Linked DNA regions of Homo sapiens. The protein of the gene in region 2 interacts with the protein of the main gene of each other region in a biochemical or structural test. Each region holds a gene or a part of one and is shown on either strand. Other genes may lie near its edges.

What was found.
Region 1: the proteins of NHERF2 (region 2) and PODXL form a complex in vitro, tested with the Homo sapiens proteins (3 studies listed by BioGRID and IntAct, with this or other methods).
Region 3: the proteins of NHERF2 (region 2) and SLC26A3 form a complex in vitro, tested with the Homo sapiens proteins (2 studies listed by BioGRID and IntAct, with this or other methods).
Region 4: the proteins of NHERF2 (region 2) and KCNJ1 form a complex in vitro, tested with the Homo sapiens proteins (2 studies listed by BioGRID and IntAct, with this or other methods).

Annotation. Positions count from the first base shown.
Region 1 is NC_000007.14:131,553,611-131,560,997, forward strand, and holds the start of PODXL (podocalyxin isoform 1 precursor), read right to left. Parts: upstream 3,019-7,387; 5' UTR 2,750-3,018; coding exon 2,650-2,749; intron 1-2,649. UniProt on the Homo sapiens protein: Involved in the regulation of both adhesion and cell morphology and cancer progression. Functions as an anti-adhesive molecule that maintains an open filtration pathway between neighboring foot processes in the podocyte by charge repulsion.
Region 2 is NC_000016.10:2,023,029-2,029,912, reverse strand, and holds the start of NHERF2 (Na(+)/H(+) exchange regulatory cofactor NHE-RF2), read right to left. Parts: upstream 3,012-6,884; 5' UTR 2,908-3,011; coding exon 2,695-2,907; intron 1,738-2,694; exon of another isoform or gene 1,717-1,737; intron 332-1,716; coding exon 131-331; intron 1-130.
Region 3 is NC_000007.14:107,772,224-107,779,246, forward strand, and holds part of SLC26A3 (chloride anion exchanger), read right to left. Parts: intron 6,059-7,023; coding exon 5,952-6,058; intron 4,484-5,951; coding exon 4,414-4,483; intron 4,322-4,413; coding exon 4,229-4,321; intron 2,650-4,228; coding exon 2,554-2,649; intron 1,931-2,553; coding exon 1,697-1,930; intron 1-1,696. UniProt on the Homo sapiens protein: Mediates chloride-bicarbonate exchange with a chloride bicarbonate stoichiometry of 2:1 in the intestinal epithelia. Plays a role in the chloride and bicarbonate homeostasis during sperm epididymal maturation and capacitation.
Region 4 is NC_000011.10:128,864,278-128,871,938, forward strand, and holds the start of KCNJ1 (ATP-sensitive inward rectifier potassium channel 1), read right to left. Parts: upstream 3,020-7,661; 5' UTR 2,896-3,019; exon of another isoform or gene 2,473-2,895; intron 2,379-2,472; exon of another isoform or gene 2,276-2,378; coding exon of another isoform or gene 2,246-2,275; intron 1-2,245. UniProt on the Homo sapiens protein: Inward rectifier potassium channels are characterized by a greater tendency to allow potassium to flow into the cell rather than out of it.

The DNA.
Region 1 (7,387 bases), on a different chromosome or scaffold from region 2:
GGTTCAGGGAGGTCCACTATTTTGTCCATGGTCATGCACATCTCTCTGACCCAAAGTCTGAGTGTTTCCACCCCACCAAGCTGCCTTTCTGTTGCCCAGAATTCATCCATTGAACATCAGATTGAGAGTACTGAATCAGCTTGTCCTTTCAGTAGCTGAGGGAACACGGAACCCCAGATATCTTATCATGGTGGAACTAGAGGTCCCTTTGGTTCTTTTATTCTATCTCACAAATAACGAAACGGAGGCACGGAGATGTGACTTACCATTGTGGTTCTGCCAGATGGTTATCAAACCAAAAAGCACTGAAAGGGGGTCTGATGAATTGTCCAACCCTTAAGGTGAATGCTTTCTTTGCTGTAGGCTGCATAATCTGCCCATATATTGGAAGGTAAGCTGGGGGAGAGGGGCAGGGATGGACCTGTCTGGGGATAATTCCTTTGTTGCAGAGACTCGAGCTATAAATCTTTCTTGCTTTGAATCAAATCACAGGATTCCAGCAGATGGGGGGCAGTGTTTATGCTATTCCCGATGACAGCAGCCCAGGCGACCACACCTTCAGAAGGACAGGGATGGAGCTGGCCTTACTGAGTCCCTAGAGGGTGGTGTAGAATGCACCATAGCTACTGAACAGACCAATCTTGCCGCAACATGCCCCCCACAAGCCTTTTCTGGCCTCAATACATGCAAATCATCATCACCATCATGATCATCATCCTCTCCCCATCCCCCACTTAGCACTTTGCACTTTTCTAAGTGCTTCCCAACAGTGCTGCATACTATAATGCATACAGTGCTCAGATAGGCCAAGTTACTTGCTGGTTAGAGCAGGCACTGGGTTATGGTCATTTTTGTTTGCCACATACCAAACTTCTGCCATGTGCCAAACCCTGTGTTAGGCCAGAAGTGGTGCTTCATGGAAGAGACATGGTTTCTGGCAGTGCCCAGGTGCCAGGAAAAACAGTGCCATCCTTGAAGCCAGCAGTGAGCTGGAGTCAGAGCTTTGCCCACTGGTGACTTATGAACATTTCCTTTTAGGGCAGACAGGGAGGGTCTTGTCCCACAGTGCCTCCCACTCCTCAAAGGAAGGGTGGCTCAGCTTCCTTAAGCTCAGAAGCACTAGGGACTAACCCCTCTTTCCTGACACAGCCCAACGCCCTTCTGGGTGGTTCTAAGAGGCTTCCCAACAAAAGGTTCGTATGAAGGCCCACCCTGAAGTCCAGCTGTCCCCAGAGTAGGGCTAAGGAGCCACCATACTCTCGTGTCATCTCAACCCTGCATGTCGTGTGGCTCTTCAGTGATTGCCACTCTGAAAGCTGTTCTGACTGTTCCTCACACTGCAGCCCCTCTTCCAGGGACACACATTCTTCCCCCCGCCGGGACCTTCCCTTTCTAGTCAGGCTGGTGGAGTCTCCCGCCGGCCACAGGAGGATGCCCACGCCTGCCTGCTCCCTGAGTGCCAGCGCCTGCCCACTACCAAAGGTTTCCTGCGGTGCAGAGGAGAGACTGTACTGCCCTTCCATCTCCCCTGGCCCCTTAGAGTCCAGTCCCAAACTGCCGGCACCTGCTCACAGCAGAATCCCTACCCTGTCTGTGCTGTCCCCGCAGTCCTCCTGGCCCTAGGGTGATCACACCACCTCAGCTCTTCCTGCAGACATGTGCTCAGGTGGGCAAAAGAGAATGAGAAATGCACCTCTCCCGTGGGGCTGAGCTGACTCTGGCTGTTCCCTAGGGGCTTAAGAACACCTGTTCTGGTTGAGTTTGCAGCCATCGCCTGTCCCCCAAAAGGGAAAGAGTAACATTTCACCTTGAAAAGAAACAGGGAGGGGATGTTTCTGAGGTGCAGGTGTTTCATGAGAGACAGGTACATTTTCTAAGGTGTGTCTAAAATGCAGCCCAATCCTATTCTACGAGAGAGAAGTTCCCGTTTGAACAAGTTCCCGTTTGAACAAGAGGATTCGAGGGGGGTCTCACCATCGTAGCCACGCACTAAGAAGCGATTGTTTTAGGGACACGGAGGTAGGACCCCCACTCAGCCAGGTGACTCTGGGACTGTGGAAGGTCCACTTACGACTCTGTACCTGCCCCAGCACGGGCTCAAGGAGTTGAGCCTGCACACATTACTTAGAAAAAACCTCTGCAAACGGGTAAGTACATCGCCCGCGTGGGCCGTGGCTGGAGGCTTGTCACCTGCTTCAGGGACTTCCTCGGGAGCCTCTCGCCTGCCTCTTTGCCTGGAATTAACGAATACACACTACAGCCCCTCATTCCCTCCAACACGAAGGAAAGGTGTAATCAGATCCCGAGAGTCCCGCAGAAGCGTGGAGCCTCGCGGTGCGGTCTCCCTTTTCTTTCCCATGCAAACCCACTTAGCACCGGCGCGCCCCTGTTTGCCCGGGCAGAATCCACCGCCCACTCCTCCCGAGTGGAGAGTGGAGACGAATCTACGCCCAGGCCCTGCACCTGCCGCGCTGCGGAGTTTGGAGGGGGCGTGGATGGTGCAAGGTCAGGGCTCCGTGTGTGACCCCGGCGGTGATAGGGCTGCTCGGGGTCGGACCACGCGGCGCGCCGGGCTTCCCTGCAGCTCGGCCGGGCAGGGGGCACATGGGCACGGTGGGAGTCCCGGCGGAACCCAGGCCGGCCACTCACCATTCTGGGAGGGCGACGGCGACGGCGACGGCGACGACGGCAGCAGCGGCGGCGTTGACAACAGTAGCAGCAGCGCCGAGAGCGCCAGCGCGCAGCGCATCGTGTCGTCGCCTCTGGGCCGGGAGCAGGTGGCTGCGGTGCCGGCGGAGGATCCGCGCGTCCGGGCGGTAGGAGCGTGGGCGCCGCCCGGGGAGGCCTGTGGGTGGCTCCGGAGGCCAGGCTGTGGCCCGGGGCTCCCGAGTCGCGCTGCGGCGGCTCTTCCTCCCTGCCGCTGCAGCAGAGCCGGGCTGGGGCGCAGAGCCAGTGGCAGAGGAGCGGCGGCGGCGGCGGCTGCGTCCTGGGCGGCGTCTGCGCGGCTGCGGCCCCACTGGCGGCTGCGGCTACTCCTGGCCCGTCCCGTCAGCGCCGGCCCCCGCCCCCGCCCCCGCCCCTCCCCCTCCCCCAGGAGCCCGCCAGCGGCGGCGGCCGGGCCGGGCGGGGCCGGGGCCGGGGCTGGGCGGGCGCTGGGCCGTGAACAATGAGCAGAGGAGGAAACTCCGCCCTGGAGCGCGACGGGCGGGAGGGCCGGCGGCCTCCGCGCCTTGGGGGGCTGTGTGTGCGCGGGGGCCAGGGCGGGGGGCTCCTGCGGTGCAGCCGGGCCCCGTCCACAGGTGTCCCGAACAGGTGTGTCCCCCCGAGTGCTTCTAAGTGGGCCCGGCGGGATCCCCCAGCACACCGCCGGGGCCCTCGCACTACGAGCAAATCCGGAGCGGGCGGACCCCCAGCCTTGCGTGGTAACTGATAACCATTCACGGCCTCCCGGGCTGCTGCGCGTTCTGCAGCGACCCCGGAGAAGCTCATCTCCCACCTGCCAAGTGCAATTCACCTGCCTGTGGGGCCCCCATCCCGCACGGCTTCTGAGCGGGGTCTCTCTGCAGCTAGGTGTGCAGCGGGCAAGCTGGACTAATTCACTCCTTCACCTCTCCAAGGGTAGGTTCCTTACCTGTGAAATGGAGATGATGGTTAAAAAACAACAGCAACAACAATTTCAGGGATGAATGTGTGCCAGGCTTTACATATATTAATTCTTTTACTCTTCATGACAACCATATTTTTAGCCTCATTTTGCAGACAGGGCAATTGAGTCAAAAAGAGGTTAAGAAACTTCCTGAGGCCACATAACGGGTAAGTGGCAAACCTGCCTCTGAGAGAAGTTTGGAGAAATACCGTGCACCGTGCCTGGAATATAGTAATTGCTCTGCAAGGAGTGGTTATTACTCTTATTCCTGCTATATAAAGAACAGCTATAAAGATTAGGGCTTTTGGGTCAAAACAGGCTGGGGCTCAAAACCTAACTGTGCCAATCTATTAATTGTAAAACCCTAGGCAAGCTATTCTCAGTACCTCATTTCTTTTTATCTGTAAAATAGGGATAATAACACCTACCTCAGGGGGTTGTTGGGAAACTTAAATGTGATCTTACAAGATAATACTTAGCCTAGGGCCAGGAACACAAAAGTCTCAATGAATGAAGTAGTTCGCCCTCCAAGTGAGGATCAGAGATATTTGCACACTGGGGGTGGGAGTGGGTGTTGGAGAATTCCGTAAACTGAGTTTATCCGGTGAAAGAACAAAGAAGTTCCTTTCCCCTCCCCCGCTCCCCTCCTTTTTTCCACCCCCAAAGCTGCCTGGGAGACGCAGACCCCAGGCCCGCCTGAAGAGGAGGCACATCGGCGGAGCCGGGAAGCGGAGGGGGCGAGGGGTGATTAACCTTGGAACCCGGGTACGGCGTAAATTTGGCTCACGTGACTCCGGGGTTGCTAATCTGGAGTCTATCTGCCAGATGGGGCTGGGTGGAGGGGTTTTCTCCAGGATCTAGCCGCGTCCCGGGCACAGGGGACTCCGTGAGCCCCTCAAGTCGGCTGCAAGCAGGCGATGCCTGCAGGGCACTGCGTCCCTGGAGCCGCGAAGGAAGCGCTGGAGCCCTGGCTGGGGTTCCGTGGCAGCCGGCCTCAAGCTTGGGAAGGGCTGACGGGGTTGTTTTCATCAGGAAGTTTCTGCAGGATCGTTCTGGCCCCGTTTTCCACACCGCATATGGGAAAGACAGAGGGTGTTCCCTATGAATACTCTGGGATATTTGTGTGTGTGACTATCTTTGATGTTTTTTTAGTACTGTTCCCCTGATATCATGTCAACAAAAGGCTTGTTTCTCTTCTGAAACCAAGCAATATATATATATATTTTTTTTTACACTGGGATTTTAAAAAATGTGTATCGCACTCTGATTTAAACAGTGTTTTTGCACTCAATCATTCAATTTATCTAAAAACTCAGAAGCAATCATGTTAACTTTATAAAGAGAGAGCGTATATTTTGAAGCTTAGGGCATTTTAAATTCACATGATTTGGGATTGGTGCCATTACAAGATCATGCAAAATTAAAATGAGAGCAGACATCTGGGCTTAGAGAAGACATAGAAAAGTTACAATTGTGCTGGACTCTCCCCAGTATCCAACAGCCCCCCTCAACTTATGCACAACGTGGCTTTCTGGAATGAGGCTGGCTGGGTTTTGAGGTCACTGGTGGCCACTGAGATGAGCTACCCCCAGGTAACTGGCCTGTGCCTTTGGCCCCATTTAGCATTGTGCTCTAACTAGCAAGCTCGCCAGCCCAGAACACCTGAGCTTATATTTGAAACCCAAAGCACTTTATGGGTGCTGTTTTTGAAGCTTTTCATCAGGAAGTTTCTGCAGGATCATTCCTTCTGGGATTTGTTGCATTTTGGTTATTTGTATACATGCGTTAGCTCTCCTAGCAGACATTCAGCTTCTTTAACATGGCGTCTTTCTTATTCATCCTTTACTTACTCAGACCACCAAGAACAGCACATCACTTTTTTTTTTTTTTTTTTTTTTTTGAGACAGAGTCTTGCTCCTGTTGCCCAGGCTGCCTCCGCCTCCCAGGTTCAAGCAATTCTCCTGCCTCAGCCTCCTAAGTAGCTAGGATTACAGGCATCTGCCACCACACCCGGCTAATTTTGTATTTTTAGTAGAGACGGGGTTTCTCCATGTTGGTCAGGCTGGTCTCGAACTCCCGACCTCAGGTGATCTGCCCGCCTCGGCCTCCCAAAGTGCTGGGATTACTGGCGAGAGCCACCGCATTTTTATCAAGCAAATGGTTTTGCTGCCCCATGGGCACAGAAGCCAATACTATGAAGCACTAGCTTTGGAAAAAGCAGCGGCTTTATTTGCAAAACTGGTCAGCAAAGAGACAGGAGTGAATTCAAATCTGTCTCCCCAGCCAGGCACGGTGACTCATGCCTGTAATCCCACAACTTTGGGAGGCTGAGGTGGGCAGATCACCTGAAGTCAGGAGTTTGAGACCAGCCTGGCCAACATGGTGAAACCCCATCTCTACTAAAAATACAAAAATTAGCCAGGCTTGGTGGCATGCGTCTGTAATCCTAGCTACTCAGGAGGCTGAGGCAGGAGAATTGCTTGAACCTGGGAGGTGTAGGCTGCAGTGAGCTGAGATTGCACCACTGCACTGCAGCCTGGGCAACAGAGCAAGACTCCATCTCAAAAAAAAAAAAAAGAAAAAATGTCTCCCCAGTTTGAGGCCTGGGGTAAATTTATGGGATCAGAAGGCAATGAAAAGATTTAGGAATGTTGGCTTGGCAGAATCTGATTGGAGGGCTTTAAATTTGACCATTTACAGAAAGGTATGTTGAGGCGGACTTTTAGCCCCACATCTTCCAAGCCATTGTACGTCTGGCTTCTGAGAGAGTTCTGGCATTCGGATTCCCATCAAGTCTCTTAGTCTTTTTAGTTCCAAGGGAGAATTCATTGTTTTGGGGTTGTTGTTAGAGTTCCAACTATTTTCTATTGCTTATGCTGGAGCAACGTGACATTTTGTTATCAACAGAGCAAGCCCAGTTTGGGCCTTTCCCTCAGTTACAACATCATACATATAGATACAGATACAGATCTATAGATACAGATCTTGAATGCAAATATGAATGTCACCTGGAAGATATTACGCAGGAACCCATGGCACAAGGTTACACATTTTTCCATGGCCCCTGGCTGTCAATGTTAGGGGCCATAATTCTCTGCCCCAGGTGCAATTTGGTGATGTTGTTTACCTAAGTGCATCCTTATGTGCAGACTCAGTAAGTCCTCTTGACCCTCATTCTAAGTAATACTGATCCCCAGTCACAACATCTAGGGGTGAGACAAAGCGTCCGCTACCACATCCCCCAAGAAAAGATGAGTGCACACATGTATCCATCCTGGAGCCACAGCTCCTACACATAAGGAGCCAGGGATGCTCTTACCTGGGCTTTCTAATCACTGACCTCTGAGTTCCTTGTGGGTCGAAGCAGTGTTTAATTCATCTTGGAATCCAGTGCCCAGTATGGTGGTGTCTGACCCCAAACAGGTGCATGACATTCAAATGCTGCATAGATGAAGAAGTGGTTGGATTTTCTCTCCAAGGTTGGGTTACCCCTGACTGCCAAGTGGTGCGGTTCTATGAATATCAGCTGGGACTCAAGTTGGGCAGCTCACCCCAAAGTCATGCCTTTATGTATTATTATTCAATAATATCTACCCTAATAGGCAGAGTGTGCTAGGTTCGGTGCACTGTGCTGAGAATGCAACCCTGTACACAAACATGACTAACATGTAGTAGGGGCTGTAACACATGGCACGGGTGGGCATGTGGGAAGCGGAGAGCAGGATGGCTCAGCCCCACCCG
Region 2 (6,884 bases):
AGAAAAGGAGCCCCAAAAGGCAGAAGAGACCAAGACTTCTGGAGGTGACCAAAGGCAAAGATCGTCGTCAAAAGCTGAGAGAGCCTCTGGGAGAGGCTAGGGTGGTCCCTGTGGGCCAAGCCCGCCATACCTTCTTGCCAGCTTCGGAGCTGTGGCTGCCGGTGTGTGCCCAGTCTGGCTTCGGCTCCCAGGGGTCGTGGGCGGGTGGGAGCCCTCGCTGGGCCATCTCCTCGGTACAGGTCAGCTGCCGCCGGCGGAGCTCCTCATCTGTCTCCTGGTCCACCACCAGCAGCCGAGTCTGCCCCTCCACAGCCTTGATCCTTTGCACCACCTGGGGCGAATGGGCGATAGGAGCGGGTCAGTGGCCCACATTCCGGGCAGCACATGGGCAGTGGCACCACTCTGGGCTGGCCCAGGCGTGCGGACAGGCGGCTGGTCTGCATGGGCGGGTGGCTGCACCAAGAGGCCTGCCGGCCCCGCCCCCCACCCCCGGACTCCAGCGGCTCCCTCCCTCTGCACTCAGGCTCCGGACACTGAGGCCCAGGCTGTGAGGGCTTCAGGGTGCTCCCAGAGCCTTGCCCTTAGCCCAGGGTCTTCTCCAGGCGGGGCTGGGAAGGGGCTGCAGGATAGGGCCGCTGGGTAAGTCCTGTCTGGAAGTGACAAAAATGGTGCACAGTGGACCTTCAGGTTTTCAGTCTGCCTGTCCCTGTGCGCGCATGCATCCATCTGTTTCAAAGTCTGTGTCTCCGTCCAGGTTTGAAGGAGAGGTGTGTCTCCCTGGGCCCCAGTTTGAGTGTGTCTGTGCCCATTCCCGTCATTCTCTGCCGTGCAGTGTGGGAGTCTAAACTCCTGACCCTAGGCCTTATATCTACCTCCAGGCCATGGCCATGGGCCCATTCCCTCTGGATCTGCAGAGAGGGGAAGGGCTGGGCTCCTGGCTCGGGCACCCACACACAGCCAGGGAAGCAGGATTCAGGTGCAGCCGGCGAGGGGGAGAGGCAGGTGCACCTGTGGACAGCTGTGGCTTGGTGGCCGTCGGTGTGTGCGTGCAGGTGCCTGTGAAGTGTCTGGACCACGCGGGGGGCCAGCGCACACCCGCGGAGAGAAAGCAGTGCCCACTGGGAAGTGGGCAGGAAGAGGGGCAGCCCTACTCCCACCTGCGGCCTGGGGGAGGGTGGACAAGGCTCCCCACCAGCTGCCGGGCTCAGCAGGGGTGGTGAACAGATAGGAGGGACTGAGCCAGGCCCATCTTCCCCCAGCCCTCCTCTCTCCCCATGACCCAGAGTGAGACAAGAGGAACCCAGTGCCCAGCTGCTTCTTGACTATGTGTCCCAGACAAGTTACCCTCAATCTCTGGCATCAGTTTCCTCAACTGTCAAATGGGGCAGTAACTGCCCCTCTTGCCCTCCTGGGGCAGTGGGGAGAGTCCACCATGGTCTGTGTGTCCAGTCCTCAGAGACCAGCCCCACAGGGCCTTGGAAAAGCAGGTGTTCCCAGGGCGAGGGTGGCAGTGACTATCCAACAGCAGCCTGGCCCCAGCCCTGGCAGCCCTACCCTCAATCCCTCAGGTCCAGGCCCCTGGCCTGATCCCCACATTCTTCAGCAAACAACCTTACACAGCAGACACTCTGGGTGGAAGGCATGGGGCCGGCCGACAGAGTGACAGACAAGGCACCAGGTAAACAGGAGACCAGCTCCAGGTCCAGCTGAACCAACCTGCTAATCTCTAGGTTCCAGGACCAGCCATGTAGACAGGTTATGGATTCATCGGTGCTGTGAGGGACAGGGGACCTGGAGGAAAAGGGGTGTGTGGACGCTGGACCCCAACCAGGGTCTGGAGGGAGTCCCTGGCCTGTGGGAGACAGACACACCTCAGGGGTCAGAACCCACAGAGAAAAGGCTCTGTTCTCCTTAGCCAGGAGGCAGGAGGCTTCGGCCAGTAACCCCAGCCAGGCTAGGCAGCCTCTGAGGAGGAGTAGTGCCTTTGTAGCTAAGGAATGTGGTTGCCAGCAATGACCAACTCAGCCCGGTCCCAGACACACCAGCTGGGACACACTAGAGTACAGACACAAAGACTCACCGGCCTGCAGACAGTGATGAGTACACTAGCCAGGCGTGCACACACACAGAGCCCAGCTCCCATACGCCCAGGAGTCCAGACCTGCACACACACAGGCACACGTGCAGACCTGTATACTCACACACACACTACAGCACACACAGGTGCAGACACACTGATGCCTTTACTGCGACCCCTCCTGGGTACGCACAGGCAGGCGCATGCACACATGGCTGACCCCAAAGGGACCTGCATACACACGCCCAGCTGTGTTCACACGCACACGTGTACACACACACCCAGGCAAAAGCACCCAGGTCTTCACCTTTCCGGAGGGGCTCCAGGCGGCCCAACACCCTCCTTCACGGCACACTGAGGCCAAAACGCGACCAAAGGGCGAGGCCAGCGGCCAGGAGCCGCAGTGCGGGCCCCTCCCTGCCAGGATGCCCCCCCCCACCCCCGTGCAGGACTGAGCTTCCTGCGCCGGGACTCCGAAGGCGCCGGGCCGCTGCCTCCCGACAACGTCCGCGTCCTCCCCGCGGGAGCCCCCTCGGGCCCCCGTGCGACCCCTGCTCGCCCCAGGGGGACGCGCTCGGGGAGGGGGCGGCGGGCCGGGGGCGAGCGCTGGCCCCCACCTGGTGGTGCGTCTCGCCCTCCACGTTGACGCCGTTGACCTCGACCAGGCGGTCCCCAGCGCGCAGCGCGGCGGCCTCGGCGGGGGAACCGGGTTCCACGCGCCGGATGAACTGCCCGCGGCGGCCCTTCTCGCCGTGCAGGTGGAAGCCGTAGCCCTGCTCTCCGCGCACCAAGCGGCACAGGCGCGGCCGCAGCGGCTCCGGCGCGGCCATGGCGCCCGCTGCCCACCGGCCGCCCGCGGGCAGGGGCGCGGGGGAGCTCGGGGGCGGCGGCGGCGCTGGGCACCCGGCGGTGGCTTCAGCGGCGGCTCCTGTTCGGCTCCCGTCGCCTCGGGATCCGGCTCGGGCTCCGGCTCGGGCTGCGGCACCGCCTCCGCGCCCGCCCCTTCCCCGCCCCCGCCGCCCGGCCGCCCCCGCCTCCAGTCCCAGCCGTCCCGGCCAGGCCCCTACCTCCGCGCCCGGCCAGCCCGAGGCGGGGCAGGGGGAGGCGGCAGGGCTAGGGGACCCCTTAACCACCGGGACCTCTCTGTCTCGCCCCTACTCTGGGCAGCCGCCTTGGTGCCAGCGCCTTTGCCTTCTATCCCAGGAACATTTATTGGATACCTACTGTATGCGCAGCATCGAGGCAGGTCTTGAGGTGGGCGACGGGTTGGACAAAGGGTCTCCAGGCCAAGGGACCCCGACAAAGGGGCCAAAGGGTAAGAACAAGGGCCACAGCCCTCCCCACCCTCCCCGGGAAGCCCTTCCGGACCCCCTTGCCTGTCTCCTCTCGGCTGTGTCTCACCTGGATCCCTCCCAGCCAGTGGCTGGGAGACTCCCTGGCCCAGGGCAGAGTCTCAGGAGGGCCCAGGAGGCAAAAAGGGCTTTAAAAGTGACACGCAGCAGCCCCTCCCTGCATCCTGGGGGCCAGTGGCTGGGAGACTCCCTGGCCTACCCACCGTGTTCGGCCTATCTGCACCGCGTCGGTTCCCACGCCCTGCTGCCATTCTTTCCCTTGGCCGGGCCGGCCCCCTCACTTGTGTCCCAGCCCACCCCAGGCCTGGACTGTGACTTTGCAGGGTGACAAAAGGATATGAGTCTCGAGGGTCCCTGCTACCCACCTCCTGACATGGGCTACACTCCACTGAATTATTTGGGCTCTAAGCTCTGGGTGTGCACAGGCGCTGCTCCACAGTGTCCACAGGCAGGCAGCAGGCCTCCCCTCCCCTGCCCACAGCCGTCCACGTCCCTCAGCCTCTACCTGAAGCACGAGTGTCCCTCCTTCCCCAACAGGACAGTCACCACCACAGTGAAATCATTTAGGCCTAAGTGCATTTTACCTGGAACAACCCTAGGGGACCGGCCACTTCACAGACCTGCAAACAGGCCTGGAGAGGGAAAAGACCCACGAAGCCTCCTCAGCTCCATTTGGGCCCAGGGATGTGAGATTCGGAGTCCATGCTATCTTCACCACCCAGCTCTTCCTCTGTCTCCAATATAGGAAGGTAGCTGAGTCCAGGCACAGCCCCAGTCTGCCCTCCTCCCCAGCCCAGCCAGGCCCCCTTGCACATACCTGGTTCCCAGGGGTCAGGCACAGCCAGCCCAGGCAATTCCCCATGTGAGCCGTAGAAGCAGGCTTGGCGCAGTCCTCCTCTCCCTCTCGTCTCTCCGGGGCCCTGGGCTGGGCTCCCCTGCCCCCACCCAAGCACAGGGCTCGCCTCTGGGCAGCCTCCTGGGCCATGGCCCCCTGGGTGCCCATATCCCGGCAGCTGCCCCTAAAAGCCACTTAGGCTGAGGCGCCGCGACTGCTCGCCACCCCAACCCCTGCAATTCCTGGGTAAGGCTGCTTCAGGCTCCCGCCCGGCCGGCCGCTTCCATCTCTCTGTCTGCATGTCCAGAGGCTGCCTGTCTGGCCTGTGGCTGGCCTCCCTGGACACAGCCTGGTGCTGCCACCCTTGGAGTCTGTGAAGATGGCTGTGGGCAGTGTGACCCACCACCACGCACCCCACATACCACACCTGTTTGGGCTTAGGGGGTCATCCCACACCAACCAGGTCCACCCAAAACCTGGCAGGCTGTAGCTTCCTGGCCACACTAGAGTCGAGGGAGGTGGCTGGATGGGAGACTCCAGCAGCCCCAGGTCCCCTGGGTAAGGGGGCTTGCAGACCTTACCCGCCCTGGGTGGGGCAGACGCCTGATCAGCCTTGGGCATACACCATCCTTCCCTGGCCCAGGACTCAGCTGATTCCTACTCCCAGTGACTGAAGATGGGCTGAGGGGCCGGAGCAGTGGCTCACGCCTGTAATCCCAACACTCTGGGAGGCCGAGGTGGGTGGATCACCTGAGGTCAGGAGTTCGAGACCAGCCTGGCCAATGTGGCGAAACCCCGTCTCTACTGAAAATACAAAAAAAATTAGCCAGGCGTGGTGGTGGGCATCTGTAATCCCAGCTACTGGGGAGGTTGAGGCAGGAGAATCGCTTGAACCCAGGAGGCGGAGGTTGCAGTGAGCTGAGATTGCGTCACTGCACTCCAGCCTGGGCAACAGAGCTAGACACCATCTCAAAAACAATAAATAAATAATTTAAAAACAAATAAAAAAAAAAAGATGGGATGGAGAACAGCATGGCAGAGGGAGGGGCCACAAGGGACATGAGGTCACAACCAGGGCCAGGAACCAAGGAAATATCACCGGACACACTGCTGCTACAGAGTTAACAAAAGAGTCCCCAAAGCCATGAAGGAGCTGAGGAGGGTAACAGAGTAGCAAAGGGCCGGGCAACAAAGGAAGTGGGCCTAGCAAAGCAGGGAGCAGGAGGAATGAGGCAGCCAGAGAGGAACCAGAGGTCACGATTTCAGAGGAGGTGCAGAGTCAGTGAGAGGGGACAGTGAGTCCAGGGGCCTGGAGGAACAGGCGAGGAAGGGTGACCTAGAAGCTCTCGGGGGCAAACCCTCCCAGGCCTCTTCTCCAGCCAGCCTCCGGAAGCTCTCAGCCCTGGTCCGAGGCTGACCTTGGCCCGTATGGGTGCTGCGCTGGAGGCAGAGAAAGGCGAAGGGAAGCACCTGGGCAAAGGTGTTCAGGGGCCGCAAAGTGCTTGGTGTCTCGAAGAAAGGGCTAGGGAGGTGGGCGGGAGGGAGTAGGGTCAGCATCGAGAGGAGGGTGGACTTTATTTTCCTGGTTCTGTGGGGTGCAGATGGGGTGTGGGTGACGTGGGCTCCCCGGGCCCCAGCAGGAGGGAAGAAAGTCAAGGCAGAGGCAATCAGAGGCTTGGGAGATCCCCCAACTCTCCACCCAACCCCCTTAACCCACGCCTGCCAGCATGCTACCCAGGCGTGGGTCCTATCCAGCAGAGGGAGAGCAGGTCTCAGCCGTTCCCCTGGGCTGTCGGTGGGGGGTCCACCGGGGTGGGGGCCGCCCGTGCACTCCTGTTTTGGCAGGACCTTTCCTTCGGGCCTTGAACCCGCATCCCTCCAGCAAGGTCCCAGCGATCTCAGGGAGCCCGAGCCTGGACCTGGACCGGGGCTCCGGGGTGTGGCCGTGGCCTGGGGCCCTGTCTGGGGGTGGGGCCACTATTCCGACTCCCGGTAATGGTCCAGAGCTGCTCAGGCAGGCGGGGCTTCCTAATGGACATTAATGGCCCTTCAAGCATAACCAGACCGCGCCTAGGGCCTCTTCCCTCAGGCTGCACCATGCCTCTCTTTACATTCTGAAACTGGAGCAGGCGGAGCCAGCGCGACAGAAGGAGGTGACCAACAGAGACCCACAGACCAGACAGAGAGAGAAGGCCGGGGGACTGCGACGACCCAAGAGTGGGGAGAGGCAGGAAACCGCTGCCGCCGACGGGGCGACCCCGCCCACCCGTCGTGGCCCCGCCCACTGCGGCTCTAGCCCCGCCCGTTGCTGGAGGCGCGAGTCGGACGCTACCGCCCGGAACAGTAGCCGCGCAGCGCCACCTGGCCGGAACTGGTGGCATTGCATCGTGCGAGGAGTTGCCCCAGGATCCTGCCCATCTGGCTTCCTTCCACTCGATCCAGTCCTGTGGGGTGGGGACTGGGGTGAGGCTGGCGCCCTAGGCCTGGTTGCGCTGCAGGGGAATAAGGGTGTGGAGTGGGGGAGGCAGAGAAGCCTCTCATGGGCTCTGTCTCCCCATCTTGGACCAGGCAAGCACCAGGGAACATCACTGAACGCCCCCCCGCCAGCCCCGCGAGAACA
Region 3 (7,023 bases), on a different chromosome or scaffold from region 2:
TTTTGAAAAGAGATAATAGTGTCAGAAGATACTAAAGTTAAAAACAAGGCTCTGTGACAGAAATAAACCCAAACAAAAGAACCCTTCTCCTCAGTAAGAAGTTAAAAATGATCATTCTTGAAGGAAGTATTATGGGAAAATGTTCTGTCTCAAACTCATAAGAACAACTCTGATTTAATTTTAAAATAGTGTCTTCTTTGGGATGATCTCAACTAGAGCTTTCTTGCTACATAAAAGTTTTAAAAAAGAACCTATGGACCATGAGTTGCTAATTATTTTTGTCCACAATGAATGGATGTATCTAGCACCAATGAATGTTTATACATTTTTCTGGTCTCTAGGCTAAGAACAAATACCAGTAGTGATATGAGTAAGATCATGTAAAGTAAGAAAAGTAGCTTATATTGTTTGATCAGGTTAGATGATCATTAATGTCATTGCCATCATCAGTAAACACTTTCAGAACCTCTTCTAGGCACTTAACTAAGAATTAGAGCCCCTGTCCTTTGTGTTATACTGCTAGAACCAAAAAATAAATGTGTGTGTGTGTGTGAGTGAAAATGCAGAAACAAAAGCTAAAGTAATCAAAAGCTAAAATAAACAAAAACCAAAACCAAAAAAGAAAAGAAAACGCAAGTAGACTTGAGAGTTACATGATGTTAACATTTAAAAAAAATTCTTCCATTTTCTAATTTTGTATCCAGTTCACCCATGCTGAATAGGTCTTATCTTAGGTCAGCTCTCACTTGGGCAGATTTTTTGTGAAAACCCAAGAAAAAGAGAGAAAGATGTAGAATTTCTTAAATTTTCTTTTTATATGTTTCTGCATTTCTGTTAGAAACTAATTTATTTTAGAAATATGATTAATCTGTGGAAAGAAAACACACTGCAATCTGATTGTTTCAGTCGTGTTTTGAAATCACATGTGACATTTATTCTTTCATATATCTATTTGGGTTTTAGCCAAGTGAAATTTCATCAGCTTATAATGGATGAGGATAAAACAAAAGGATCCACTCTTACATTTTTTCCCAGGACCTTTCCAGATCTTCTCTGATTTCAGAATAATTTAGACACAATGCCCACAAAGATTTGAGAACACCACAGAATTGAAATTTGAAAGGAATGTGAGCATAGTTGTCCACCAGCAGATTCAGCATACGTTAGAACTGTAGATTTGATTCCCTTCAATATAGTACCCAGTCTCATGGAAAAATGCCCTTTCAAGAGTCCACTGAACACCACCTTTCCCTCCATGGAATACTCTAAGATTATCATTTGCTTCTAATTAAATGCATGTTACCTAAAGGAGCATCCTTCCACAAATACAGTTTTTTTTGTTGCTGTTTTTGAGACAGAGTCTCACTGTATTGCTGGAGTGCAGTGGTGCAATTTCGGCTCACTGCAATTGCCACCTCCCAGGTTCAAGCTATTCTCCTGCCTCAGCCTCCCGAGTAGCTGGGATTACAGGTGCACGCCACCACACCCAGCTGATTTTTGTATTTTTAGTAGAGACGGGGCTTCGCCATGTTGGCCAGGCTGGTCTCGAAGTCCTGACCTCAGGTGATCCACCCACCTCGGCCTCCCAAAGTGCTGGGATTACAGGCATGAGCCACTGTGCCCAGCCCACAAATACAATTTTTTTTTTAACCTTTAGTCATTGATTGGTTGTTTCCATTAAGAACAAAGAAATTACCGATTTAAGGCCCCTCACTGAAGAAACATCAAGAAAGGACACTGCTGAAAAGTCAAGAATGAGGCTGTGGAGGCTGATTTTGGGGACCTCAATGTTGAGAGGAAGATCATCATTCCAGTCAATGTGGAAAGGCAGGTCTGTGGTATTGATTGGCTGGTCCAGTACTTCTATCTGATTGTTGTCCAGCTCTTCGTCAGAATCTTTTATGGTGTCAACAGTACATATAAATCCTTTCTGCAGGAGAGGATAACAAGTATGAAAACTGTGACCAAGAAAAACATTGTGTATGTCAGAGATAGCCAGTGAGTTTCAGAAGCACTGATTCTGAGTTGAGCCAAACGATGGGATTGGACTAGGTGTGGTGGCTCATGCCTGTCATCCCAGCACTTTAGGAAACTGAGGTGGGAGGATCACTTGAGCCCAGGAGTTTGAGACCAGCCAGGGCAACATGGTAAGACTCCATCTCTGCAAAAAATAAAAAAGTTAGCCAGGCATGGTGGCACATGTGCTTGTAGTTTCAGCTACTTGGGAGGCTGAGGTGGGAGGGTCGCTTGAGTCTGGGAGGTCAAGGCTGCAATGAGCTGTGATCGCACCACTGCGCTCCAGCCTAGGCCACAGAGCAAGACACTGTCTCAAACAACAACAAGATTGTGGACAATTGTGTTTGGTACTTTTCCCAGGAGAATAAAAATTTTAGGGAGACCCTCAGAAGGATGTCATTTTAAAATATAACACTCATTGACACATGAAATCCCTTGTTTATCTGGCATTTCATTTAAAGGAATGGAACTACACCTTGAATCATCCTTTACTAAGCTTTTAGCTATAATGCATAGAAATGTGGTCAAGGAACTTACTGGTGTCACTTGTAGCAAGCCTTGCTTCTGCAGTTTTCGGATTTTCCTCAAAGCTTTGTTGCGCTTGCGTAGAATTCGAAGTGGACTAAAGCCAACCTGAGAAACCCATTGCTGTGTTACAAGAGTACTGAATATTCTGTTATTTATATAGCATAGTTCTAACAACTTTAACTGGAGTGATTTGAGGGATTGGGACAGATAATAAAAATATTTGTGACAAAATTTAAAAGTGGTTTAAACAATATCAGCCAGAACATTGGGTCAGACCCATGGTCTGCTCCACCTGTATGCAGTTATCAACAGTCAAAAGCTTTTGTATAACACAGTCCAGGATTCATCCATAAATTATCCATGAATGGACATAAACTCTATTTGAATCTGTTTGTGTTTGGAACCTACACAACTCTTAGGGAATTTTATTTTACTTATTTTCTATTTATTGAGTACGAGTTGCACCTACATAAGTATTCTGCTTGTATGTAATTTTTATCTTATTAAAATTTATAATGGTATGTTATTTATTATTGTACAATTTTATTTTATAATTTTAGTATTATATTTGAGGCTAATCTTTGTTTTTTTCAACACTAATGAATTCTTATTGCTGTAATATTTAGTTACAGATAAGTAAGAGAGGAGGATCAAATTATGTAATAAAAAATCCTTGGCCAGGCGTGGTGGCTGAAGCCTCTAATCCTAGCACTTTGGGAGGCCGAGGTGGGAGGATTGCGTGAGGCCACGAGTTCAAGGCCAGCCTGGGCAACAAAGCAAGCCCTCGTCTCTACAAAAGATTTAAAACTTAGCACTTAGCGGGGTGTAGTGGCACATGCCTGGAGTCTCATCTACTTGGGGGGCTGAGGTAGGGGGATTGCTCAAACCCAGGAGTTTGAGGTTGCAGTGAGCTGTGATCATGCCAGCCTGGGTGACAAAGCGAGACCTTGTCTCAAAAAAAAAAATCCTTGACAAAAAATATAGTTAGATGGAAGTTTACTAGAGTAATCGAAAAGGGCAGTACAGAAAACCAAATATACAATATAATCTCATTTTGCAAACAACAACAAAAAACTCGGTAGAAAAATGTCGGATGCATATCAAACTAATAATAATAGTTAAGGTTTAAGGCAGAGGCTGTATGCAAGGTACAGAGTAGACCAAAGGCATGTTTCAAGAGGGAGGACTGAGCTTTTTTTCTTAACTGTCAAGACTGCTTCCTTGTCATCATCTCTCCAGTTTGCCAGGGACACTCAGTATGTATTGTTATTCAGTATTAACTATTCATTTACAACTGTTATACTGAATCTCTTTGAGGATGTGGTCAAATATTAAATGCTCCTTCATTGTTTCTGAAGTTGATGCCCAAAGAAAATCTGTAGGATGACATCTACTAAAAGCTAGCAGCCCAAAACTTGGTAAATTTCTTTTACTCTACATCAGAATTTGAGAAAAGGATTCTTCTATATTAGATGTCATCTGAAGAGGCTTATTTCCCAACCTATTAACAAACTCCCCATAAGGTAGTTTCATCTGTTCTGGGACGTGGGACAAAAAATACTGACACAACCCCACCTCAACATATGTGACACAACCCAGTCTCAACAATGACCTTACAGAACAATGACATTCCCAGAATTCAGTAAGATTACAAGGAAAAAAATTAAATAACCCCAAACCTTACAGCATCGATAAGTTTCCGCCTAAAGAAACCAATGTTTGCAAAGTAGATAGGAGATGGACATCTGAAAATTTTCACTCCTTCTGGCTCATACATCTGTAAGGCAGAGAAGCATTGTTAGGTGTTGCCCATTAGATCCATAGTTAATATCATTTAGCAAGTCAAAGAAAAACATGAATCTCCCTTACATCATAATAATCTTTTTTATTCTTATAGATGTTGGTTCTTCCAATATTAGCCAGCGTGCTGCATTTTGGACTGTAGGGAGAAAAACACCAAGTAAATCATTCATGTATGTTTGTTAAGCCTATAAGGCTAACACTGACTTTTTCCAGCATACCAAAGCAGGCTCACTTTTCAAAATGTAAAAGGTTGGGGAATCATCATGCCATCAGAGACTCTGGAAGGTGAACACCTTGTTTTACTTATCTTTGTGTCCTCTCACAGCACCTGAAAAGTGCCTCCCATTTGTCATGTTACAGTTTACAAAGCACTCCATATGCTTTTGCCATTTTGATTGTGAATATCACAGTTATTCCATGAGGTAAGGTGGATATGATTACCCAGTTGTATGGATGAGAACATGGAAAAGTAAAATGACTTGCTTATGACCATTCAGTTTGTCTCTATGTTTGATGGGTTCCCAGTAAAAAATGGAATGAAATATAAATAAATGAAAGAGTTCGGGAGTATTTCAATATGGATGTATTCCATCAGTCAGGGATTGACTTTGTGATAACAATTTCTGTTGTAGAACTCCTTAGTTCCCCAGGAAGCATCTTTTTCTGTCACACCATGTAATTCAAAATAGGCTGAGCAACCACATGGTAGTGATGTTACATGGCAGAGATTTTAAAAAATCAAGGCTGGTCGCCATGGCTCATGACTGTAATCCCAGCACTTTGGCAGGCTAAGTCGGGCGGATCACCCAAAGTCAGGAATTCACGAACCAGCCTGGCCAACACGGTGAAACCCTGTCTCTAGTAAAAATACAAAAATTAGCCAGTGGCAGGCACCTATAGTCCCAGCTACTTGGGAGGCTGAGGTAGAAGAATCGCTTGAACCCAGGAGGCAGAGGTTGCAGTGAGCCGAGATTACACCGTTGCACTCCGGCCTGGGCGACAAGAGCGAAACTCTGTCTCAAAAGACAATAAATAAATAAATAAATAAAAATTAAAAAGATGCTTGGACTGAATGATTATTAAAAATCAAGAATTCCAAATGGCTTTTGTGGAATTTTAAGGTAAGAGGGGCCTTTGAGAAGTTCTCTAATCCAGCTCCATATTTTAAAGGTACGAGGGCAATCTAACAACCTATAAAGAGGAAATCCATCCACTAGATGGAAACAATCTCACAATCTCAGTAACACATTTCCATGTTTAACAAGTACAAGGCAAAGACATTAAACCTGCTTGGAATAGAATTACTTCTGGTTTATAGCTGGGCGAATAGACTCAGAGATTTATATGATTTATTTGAACTGGAGTCAAAGCCAGAAGCAGACCAACAGCAAGTCTCCTCCCTGGGCTGATGTTCTAAAGCTGGGCCGTGCTATTGCCCTTCAGGCCTTGAGATGAGCAACTGGAGGGAGGATAAACTGCCCCATCCTGATAGAAATGCACACCTATCAACCAACTACTGTTCTTTTAGCCAGTGACATTTTTTTTCCTCTTCTGATTTGGGCAGGTCCAAGCCTGCCAGGATGCAGAGCACTTTGAGCACTCACAATTGGGTCCTGAACACGATGGTTAGCAGTTGAAATGCCACACTAGCTGCCAGGCCTAACCCGAGTCCCAGGACAATGGTGAAGATGAAGGTCATGATCCAAATTAACTGTGAAAAGAAAGCAACACATACACTACAATTTACTTTGATTAAAGTACAATGTCGAGACGGGGTCTTTTAAAAAGACTTTTTTTTTTTTTTTTTGTAGCGACAGTGAGACCTTGTCCCTATAAAAAAAATTTAAAAATTTGCCAGACGTGGTGGAAGTTGAAAGTTGTCATCTTGGGCCAGGGAGCAAAGTGCACAGAAGACACTTTTCCCAAGAGGTCATTTCTGCTGGCTCAGGTTCTGGGCCACAAAAACACACACAAATATAAGAGGATTCAAAGAAAGTGTATTTATTTCTAATCCCATCTCCAACTCATTTAGGAAATGGAATTATCTGTCACAGTGATAATTATAATTGCAAAAACTGCAATTACTTTTGCACCAACCTAATAGAACCAGCTGCTGTTCATTAAAATCAGCAAATTAGACTGGGCGTGAAGGCTCACACCTGTAATGTCAGCACTTTGGGAGGCTGAGGTGGGAGGATCACTTGAGGCCAGGAGTTCAAGACTAGCCTGGGCAACATAGTGAGAATCTGCTTCTACAAAAAATAAAAAAAAATAGCTGAGGATGGTGGTGTGCAGCTGTAGTCATAGCTACTCAGGAGGCTGGGGCAGAGGGATTGCCTGAGCCCAGGAGTTTGAGGTTATAGTGAGCTAGGATGGCACCATTGCACTCCAGCCTGGGTGACAGAGGGAGATCCTATCTCTTAAAAAAAAATCAGCAAATTAACTGGTAGAGCTTATACTAATGTTTTACTCTTGGTCTGTTGATTTAATTAATGGTTGCTATCTTTATAAGAATTTTAGCATGCCAAAAGGGTGTTAAAACGCCCCACAAAAGTAAACCAAGTGTAGTTTACTAGTTATGATCTTTAAATACCTAAGGGTATGTTAACAGGCATTTTTACACCACAGACTTTGACCCTGTTAAAATAGCAAAGCATGTGAGAGCAAGGGGGAGCC
Region 4 (7,661 bases), on a different chromosome or scaffold from region 2:
GTTTTTCCATGTTGGCCAGGCTGGTCTTGAAATCTTGACCTCAGATGAGCCTCAGCCACCAAAAGTGCTGGGATTACAGGTGTAAGCCACTGCACCAGGCCTATTGTTGACTTTTCTAGGGGTCTATCTTTTATATGTCTCTACACTAATTTTTTTCTTCAGCATTTTTTGAAGATGTTTGTTTTTGTTGTTTTCTTTTTCCAATTTCTGCACACCCTGCTTGTTCATGATGATTTCTGAACCACATAATCGAGCCAACCACTTTTTGCTATTTCACAGCAGTACTAATACTATTCCTGAACCATATATATTTCAGGAGAAAGAGCAGATTGGGAAAGCCTAGGCCCTTTTCTGTATACTTTTGGCTTGAGCCTAGGTCATCACAGTCTTGAATGTGGGAGGGTGAGTGGAAGGAAAAGGGTCTGTGCCATTCAAAGTGTGCTCTTTTTGCGGACTTTGGGAGTCTCTGGCTCCTGTTTCAGAGCTCCACTTCATCCTCGCCTGTCCCCATCACTCTCTGCAGCTGATTGGCCACCAGACTTTGTGTCTTCTCCCTCTTGGTAATCTCCTCCCTGATTACCCGGCCGTGGTCTTACCCTACTCTAGTCCACCTTGCACTGTGCAGGCAGAGCAACTCTTCCACAATGTAAATAAGATCTTACCCCGGTTCTCACCACCTTCCGGACACTGCCCAAGTTCCTCAGCATCACATACTAGGTCCTTCATCGTGGCACCCTGCAGCTTCCCTCACCCCTCCCCTGGCCACCCACCCTCAGCCACACCAGCCTGGTATTCCCTGTGTAAGTCATGCTCTCTCTCATTCTTGCATATTTTTGTAAATGCCATTTCCTTGTTCTAGAATGTTCTTCCCCCTGCCTCCAGTAGGCCCCTTCCTGCCCACCCAGCGCATTTAGGATCATGCTTCCATGAGGTCCTCTGTAGGAAAAGTATGATGTACTTTTCTGTGCAGGCAGCGATGATACTATGAGCTACATTTCTGTGTCACAGTCCCCACTCATCAGGTATCTCTCCCATTAGCGTGTGAGAGCCTGTTTCCATGCACATAGCCCCTAGCCCAAGTACCTGCCCTCTAGAGCAAAGCATTTCCCAAGCCATTCAGTGGTTTCCCAGGACCTAGCATCCAAAACACAATGAGTTCTAATTACAAGCTTGTTGAAAGGCAAATGAAGAAAAAAACCTGTATGTATAATAATAATAGTCATGAGAAAGACAAGAATGAAGAGAAGAAAGACAATAGTCATCACTGGCATCTTAAATTATGGAGCCAAGGGGAGAAACATTTGGGTCACCCTCAGGATCAAACTGCCAGGCCAGAAGCAATTCCACTGAGAGGGCACCAGGAAGCCTTCAATGCATGGAAACCCTGGAGCAAGTAAAAGGCAAAGCATGTGAGTCACAGCTGAATCCCTGGACAATCACTGAGCTGTGACAAGGTGCAGGGTAGACTCATAACCTAGCACAGAAAAACACATTACTGAGGAAAGGAAAAGAACGTGAATGGGGAATTTTGAGACTTAGCTCTTCACAGAAAAGCATGCTTGGCAATTACAAACTTCTTATATTAAAAAAAATCAGGCAAACCAAAAGTCATTAAAGCATTAAAGATTAAGACCCACTCACAAGGAATTCACATACTCTGCTTCTTTACAAGGGCAGTCTTGCACCTACACTGACTTGGTGCACCTCCTTACACAGAAGAAATCCACCTTCATGACTTGAGTATAAAAAAATGCTTTTCTGATGGCCCATACGTTCCCAGATATCTCCACCCCATCATGCTCTTAAAAGCTGAAGCTGACTTAGTGAGAATCCATTTACACTAAACAGTGTAGAGTAAGACAACACAAGCCAAGCCCATGACTGAAGGGAGCCCACAAAGACTGGGCAGCTCCTCCAATGTAACCGAAGATTCAACCAAAGATTCTAACTGCCCTCCAGCCCCAGGGCTACGGAATGGCCCAGGGAAGGCAGCGTGCAGCTCGCAACTAATAATCCAGGTACAACCAGCAGATCAAAAGCATCCAGTGAGTGGCTCTGCCAAGTCCCTGTCCATAAAAGGTCCATAGCACAATCACTATGTTTTGCTCCATTTTGTAAGCCCAGCTAAAAGGAGAAAAATTCAATCATTTTTCCTAAAGATTGCTGGTTGCGAAAGACCAACTCCTTTTAAGCGTCTATGCACCAAATCTGTAAGATACAGATATTGGGAGAAGGGGCTCCATACCTGTTCAGAGCAGAGATAAACAGTTGGCATTCACTGGTATAGAGCAATTGTCACAACAGTCATTAGGAAGCTGAACAAATGTTGAGAAATCCAAATGTATCCATTCAGAATGGTGCAAAATTCCTATAAAGTCCTACATCAGAAAATGAAAGAAAGACATTTGGGTGAAGGTAATCAAAATGTCTGGCTAACTCTTGCCTTTTCCTGATATATGTTTTCCATAATAGACCCCACTAGCACCTTGATCCTCTACCTTAAAGATGGAAACGGCTTGGCAGAGGTTGTGTTACTAGGCAAGGTCTTGCTACAATTGAAAGGATGCCACCAGAGATGAAAACCCTACATACATCTCTGCCACCAAAAGAAGACTTTGGAATCAGGCATGATGCAACCAAAGATTCTTACTGCCCTCCAGCCCCAGGGCTGCGGAGTGACCCAGGGAAGGCAAGATGCAGCACACAGCTAATAATCCACATGTAACCAGCACACCAAAAGCATCCAGTGAGTGAGTTAAAACCATGCTTCTATCTATCCCCCAGGAGTGGACAGACAAGTCTGCCTAGATTTGAGGCGGGGAAAAGAGGTCTAAATTTTCACAAGAATTAACTTCTTTTTCCTACAAAGAGACAATGAGGTGTTTCTCCTCTTACCTCATGGATTGCTGGAGTAAATGTAGAAACAAAAACTCATTTTCTTGGTCTCCAAGAAAGCAACCAGATTCTCGATGTGAGCAAGTCCCTGCACCTTTGATGCAAGAGTTTGGATATGCTAGGTGAGGGTACCCGAGGCCCTGTTGATTTTATGAGTCTGTGGGCCAGCTCAGACCGGCTGCCAACTCATCTGTATGCAACAGTTCTCAAAGAACATAGTTTACTTTATAACCGGATCCAACAAGAGTAGGCGTGGCAGTTAAGTGAGTGAGATACCAAAGGTGTTGAGCTACCAAGGCTAACTAAGAAGGATTTGTTTATGGAACCCTGGCTTGGAACCAGAAGGCCGGTATGCTCATGTCGATGTGTCTAAGTCAAAGGCATGAAGTTGAACACGTGCGCACATGAGGCTGGATGTTACAGGGCAGGGAAGTAGGGGTCCCCAAGGAGCCCCTCACAAATGTCTCCTGTCCTGTGAATCACTCAGTGGCCCTAGAACAGCAGTCCCCAACCTTTTTGGCACCAGGGACCAGTTTCATGGGAGACATTTTTTCCATGGACCAGGGAGGTGGTGGGGGAGGATGGTTTCGAGATGATTCAAACACATGACATTTATTGTGAACTTTGTTTCTACTGTGTTTACTTATAATAATTACTTTACTTCTATTATATTCTATTATATTCCTTATTTCATTATATATTATATTCTAATATATAATGAAATAATATTCTATTACATTATATAATATTCTATTCTATTCTATAATATTATAGAATGAAATAATGAATATGGGATGAAATAATGAAATATTCTATTCTATTATAGAAGGAAATAATATTCTATTCTATTCTATGAAATAATATTCTATTATATTCCTTATTTCATTATGTATTATATTCTAATATATAATATAATATATATTATGTATTATATTCTAATATATTATATAACATATATTATGTATTATATTCTAATATACTCTATAACATATATTCTGTATTATATTCTAATATATTATATAACATATATTCTGTATTATATTCTAATATATTATATAACATATATTCTGTATTATATTCTAATATATAATATATATTCTGTATTATATTCTAATATATAATATATATTATGTATTATATTCTAATATATAATATATATTCTGTATTATATTCTAATATATAATATAATATATATTATGTATTATATTCTAATATATTATATAACATATATTACGTATTATATTCTAATATGTTATATAATATATATTACGTATTATATTCTAATATATTATATAACATATATTACGTATTATATTCTAATATATTATATAACATATATTACGTATTATATTCTAATATATTATATAACATATATTACGTATTATATTCTAATATATTATATAACATATATTACGTATTATATTCTAAATATTATATAACATATATTACATATTATATTCTAAATATTATATAACATATATTACGTATTATATTCTAATATATCATATAATATATATTATGTATTATATTCTAATATATAATGAAATAATTATACAACACCACCATAATGTCGAATCAGTGGGAGCCCTGAGCTTGTTTTCTTGCAACTAGACAGTCCCATCTGGGGGTGATGGGAGACAGTGACAGATCATCAGGCGTTAGATTCTCATAAGGAGCGCACAGCCTAGATCCCTCGAATGCGCAGTTCACAAAAGGGTTCAGGATCCTGTGAGAATGTAATGCCGCTGCTGATCTGACAGGAAGCGGAGCTCAGGCAGTAATGTGAGCCATAGGGAGTGGTCAAAATACAAATGAAGCTTTGCTCACCTACCACTCACCTCCTTCTGTGCAGCCTGGTTCCTAGCAGGCCACAGACCAGGTGTGGGGACTCCTGCCCTAGAAGGTCAGGCTGACCTGACTTTCTCTTGGCCATTCACCAGCCACCCTGGTCCCGGGGCAATGCAGAACTTTACATCACAGACTTTGCACTTCAGTGGTGGGGTTGAGACCCTGCTCTACCAACTGCAAGTTACCTAGCTTCTCACCTCAGAAGTCTACAGTGGGAAGCTCAAGAGATAGCATATGTAATACACTTGTCATTGAATGAACAGGGTTGAAATCCAACCTACTCCGAGTGTCAGCCTTCTGTCTTCCTCCTCAGCCCACCCCCTAGGGCCATCTCCCACTAGGAGACTGAGGGAGAGGAGTCCTTACCCCACACCCCTCCTGAGTTGCTCTCTTCCCACTGTTCCTCACACTTCACAGCTGGTAATCACTTGAAGCATTGATTGGGTTCGCAAGAAGCAAGAGTGGGTGACTGTGGGCTGGCCACATGCCCCTTCACTGCCTGTCCCCTCCTCCACTCAACACCACACAAGATTGTAGGAGGGATCAACCTCAGCTCAAGAGTCAAAGAGATGAGAAGCATCAGAGCAGCAGCGTAGCTTGGAGACCATACACCAGGTTCCTGACACCAGTCCCCGGGGCAGGACAGCTGAGTCTCCATGATGCTCAGAGAAGGGATAAAATGGAAACAGATGCAAAATTTCACGGAAAAGGCACTTTTGCTTTCAAACATTTATAAGCATAACCAGTCATTACAGATAAGGAAAAAGAACATAGTAGGTTGCTATGGTCTGAATGTGTCTCACAAAATTTATATATTGAAACATAATCCCCATGAGATAGTTTTAAGAGGCAGGGCCTTTAGGAGGTGATTAAGTCATCAGGTAGAGCCCTTCCAGATGGGGTTAGGGCCCTTATCAAAGGGCTCGAGGGAGGAGGTTCATTCTCTTCTGCTGTGAGGACACAGTGTTTGTCCTCTTTCTGCCCGTCTGCCTTCCACCATGTGATGCAGTGGTCAAGGCCTCAGCAGACATCAAACCTGCCTGTGCCTTGGTCTTGGACTTCCAGCCTCCATAACTCTCTGTGGTTTATAAATTACCCAGCCTCAGATATTTTGTTACAGCAGCCCAGACAGAACAAGACACAGGTGTAAGTGAAGCCACTTGCAGAAGGGTTCCCATGCGAAGTGAGGTGGGAGGAGACCCACACTAAGGAGCTACAACATGGTGGGGGAAAGAGCAACAGGCGGGGAGTCCACGCTCCTGCTAAATCTGGCCTTCTCCCTTCACAGGTGGCCTCCTGTGGTCACGCCTGTCCCTGCTGCTGCTTGCCGTCCTTGGGTTCACCCCCTCTGTCCACAGGCCCTCCCTTCTGCACCCCTCACTGCGTGGCCCTCTACCTACCTTTGCAGGCCTCCCAATCCCCCCAGTGGGATATTCCCAAGCCTCAGGTTCACCCAACCCTACCCCTGAGCAGGCCTGGGTGTGGAGGCCAGGAGAACACGCCCTGCAGCCCAACGAAACGCAGGGAGAGGAAGTGTCCAAGGCCAAAGGGGCTGCACTCTGAAGGGACTGAGCACAGGAGGACATGAAGGGAGGCAGTCCCCGGGAGAGGTGGGCTCCTCCAAGGGTGCCTTTGGCTGGAGCACTCTTGCACGGCCGTGGAATCTTCCTTAGACTCCATGGCAGTCTAGGATGCATCCTCCCAACCTGCTCTCCCTCCTCCCCTCAGGGTCTGCCCTGAGTCCTGGTCTGAAAACTCCTCAGACAGCCTCCCTCTGACTTTCCTCACCTGGGCATCTCCTCCAACAAAATCTTGGCATTTTTAATCCCCTCTTGGCATCTGCTTCTCAGAGGCCCTGGACTGGTGCATGAGGCTCTTCAGATGGGATGTGAACTGTCAGAGAGCTTGGCAGGAGGCCCTTTGGAGTCCCACAGAACAACTCAGGAAAGGGGGCTTCCCTGACCCAATGTCCAGCGTGGAGGCCCTAGGGGGCAGGCATTCTGAGCCTCCCCACCTGTGTGGGCTGAAGGCGTGTCTTTGACTCTTGTGATCCAGCAGACAGCTGTGGAAATACAAACACATACAGAGAAACATGTGTCTCCCCCAGGTAAGCATTCATCCTCACAGAATAAACCCCAAACAGGGAGAAGTGTTTTTTAACTACTTCATTCATTTGCAAGGCAGGTACCTTTTGCACAATGGAGCCAGAATGTCTCATTATTATGCAGACCAGGGAGTTATCTTACCTTCATCCCCCACTCCTTGCCCCCAATCTTCAAAACTGGGCCCTTTTGGACCTGCTGGGAATGAGAAAGAGGACTGTTGCTAAGCAACAGGGAGGGCAGGGGATGCATTCTCCCTGTTCCACAAATCCTAGTCTTAAAGCACAAATGATAGCGTTTGCCCTGATGGAATCCTACACCTTCCAGTACCCCAGCGGGATGCACTCTCAGTCCTTCCGCCTTACCACTGTCTTCACGGAGAAATTCCGTTCCTGCTGTGGCGCCTGGCAACTGCTTCACTACCTCTGTAGCCATGAGACAGCCTGAGTCCTCCATGGTGGGATTGTGTGTGACAATGAGAAGACAGCCCAACTCCTCTTTCCCTGATGCAGTCCGGCCCCTCTGTGCTGTGTAGCCTCACCAGGTTCCCAACACTGATGAGGTTACACGCCCAGCATTTACTCCTCAGACTGGACCTGGAGCATCCCGCCGCTGGACCTGAGTGAAGACCAGAGTCAACAGACGGTTTTCTCTTTCTCTTAAAGAAGTTTGGAACATTTGAAACATATTATCCTATTCATGACTAATATTCCAACAGGAGTCATTCAGATAAACAAAAAGCCTTTCCAGGTGCTTGTCTGATTTAGAGGAAGGCAGCACATTCCCATTCACACAACAGAGGGGCCAGGTGCCTCT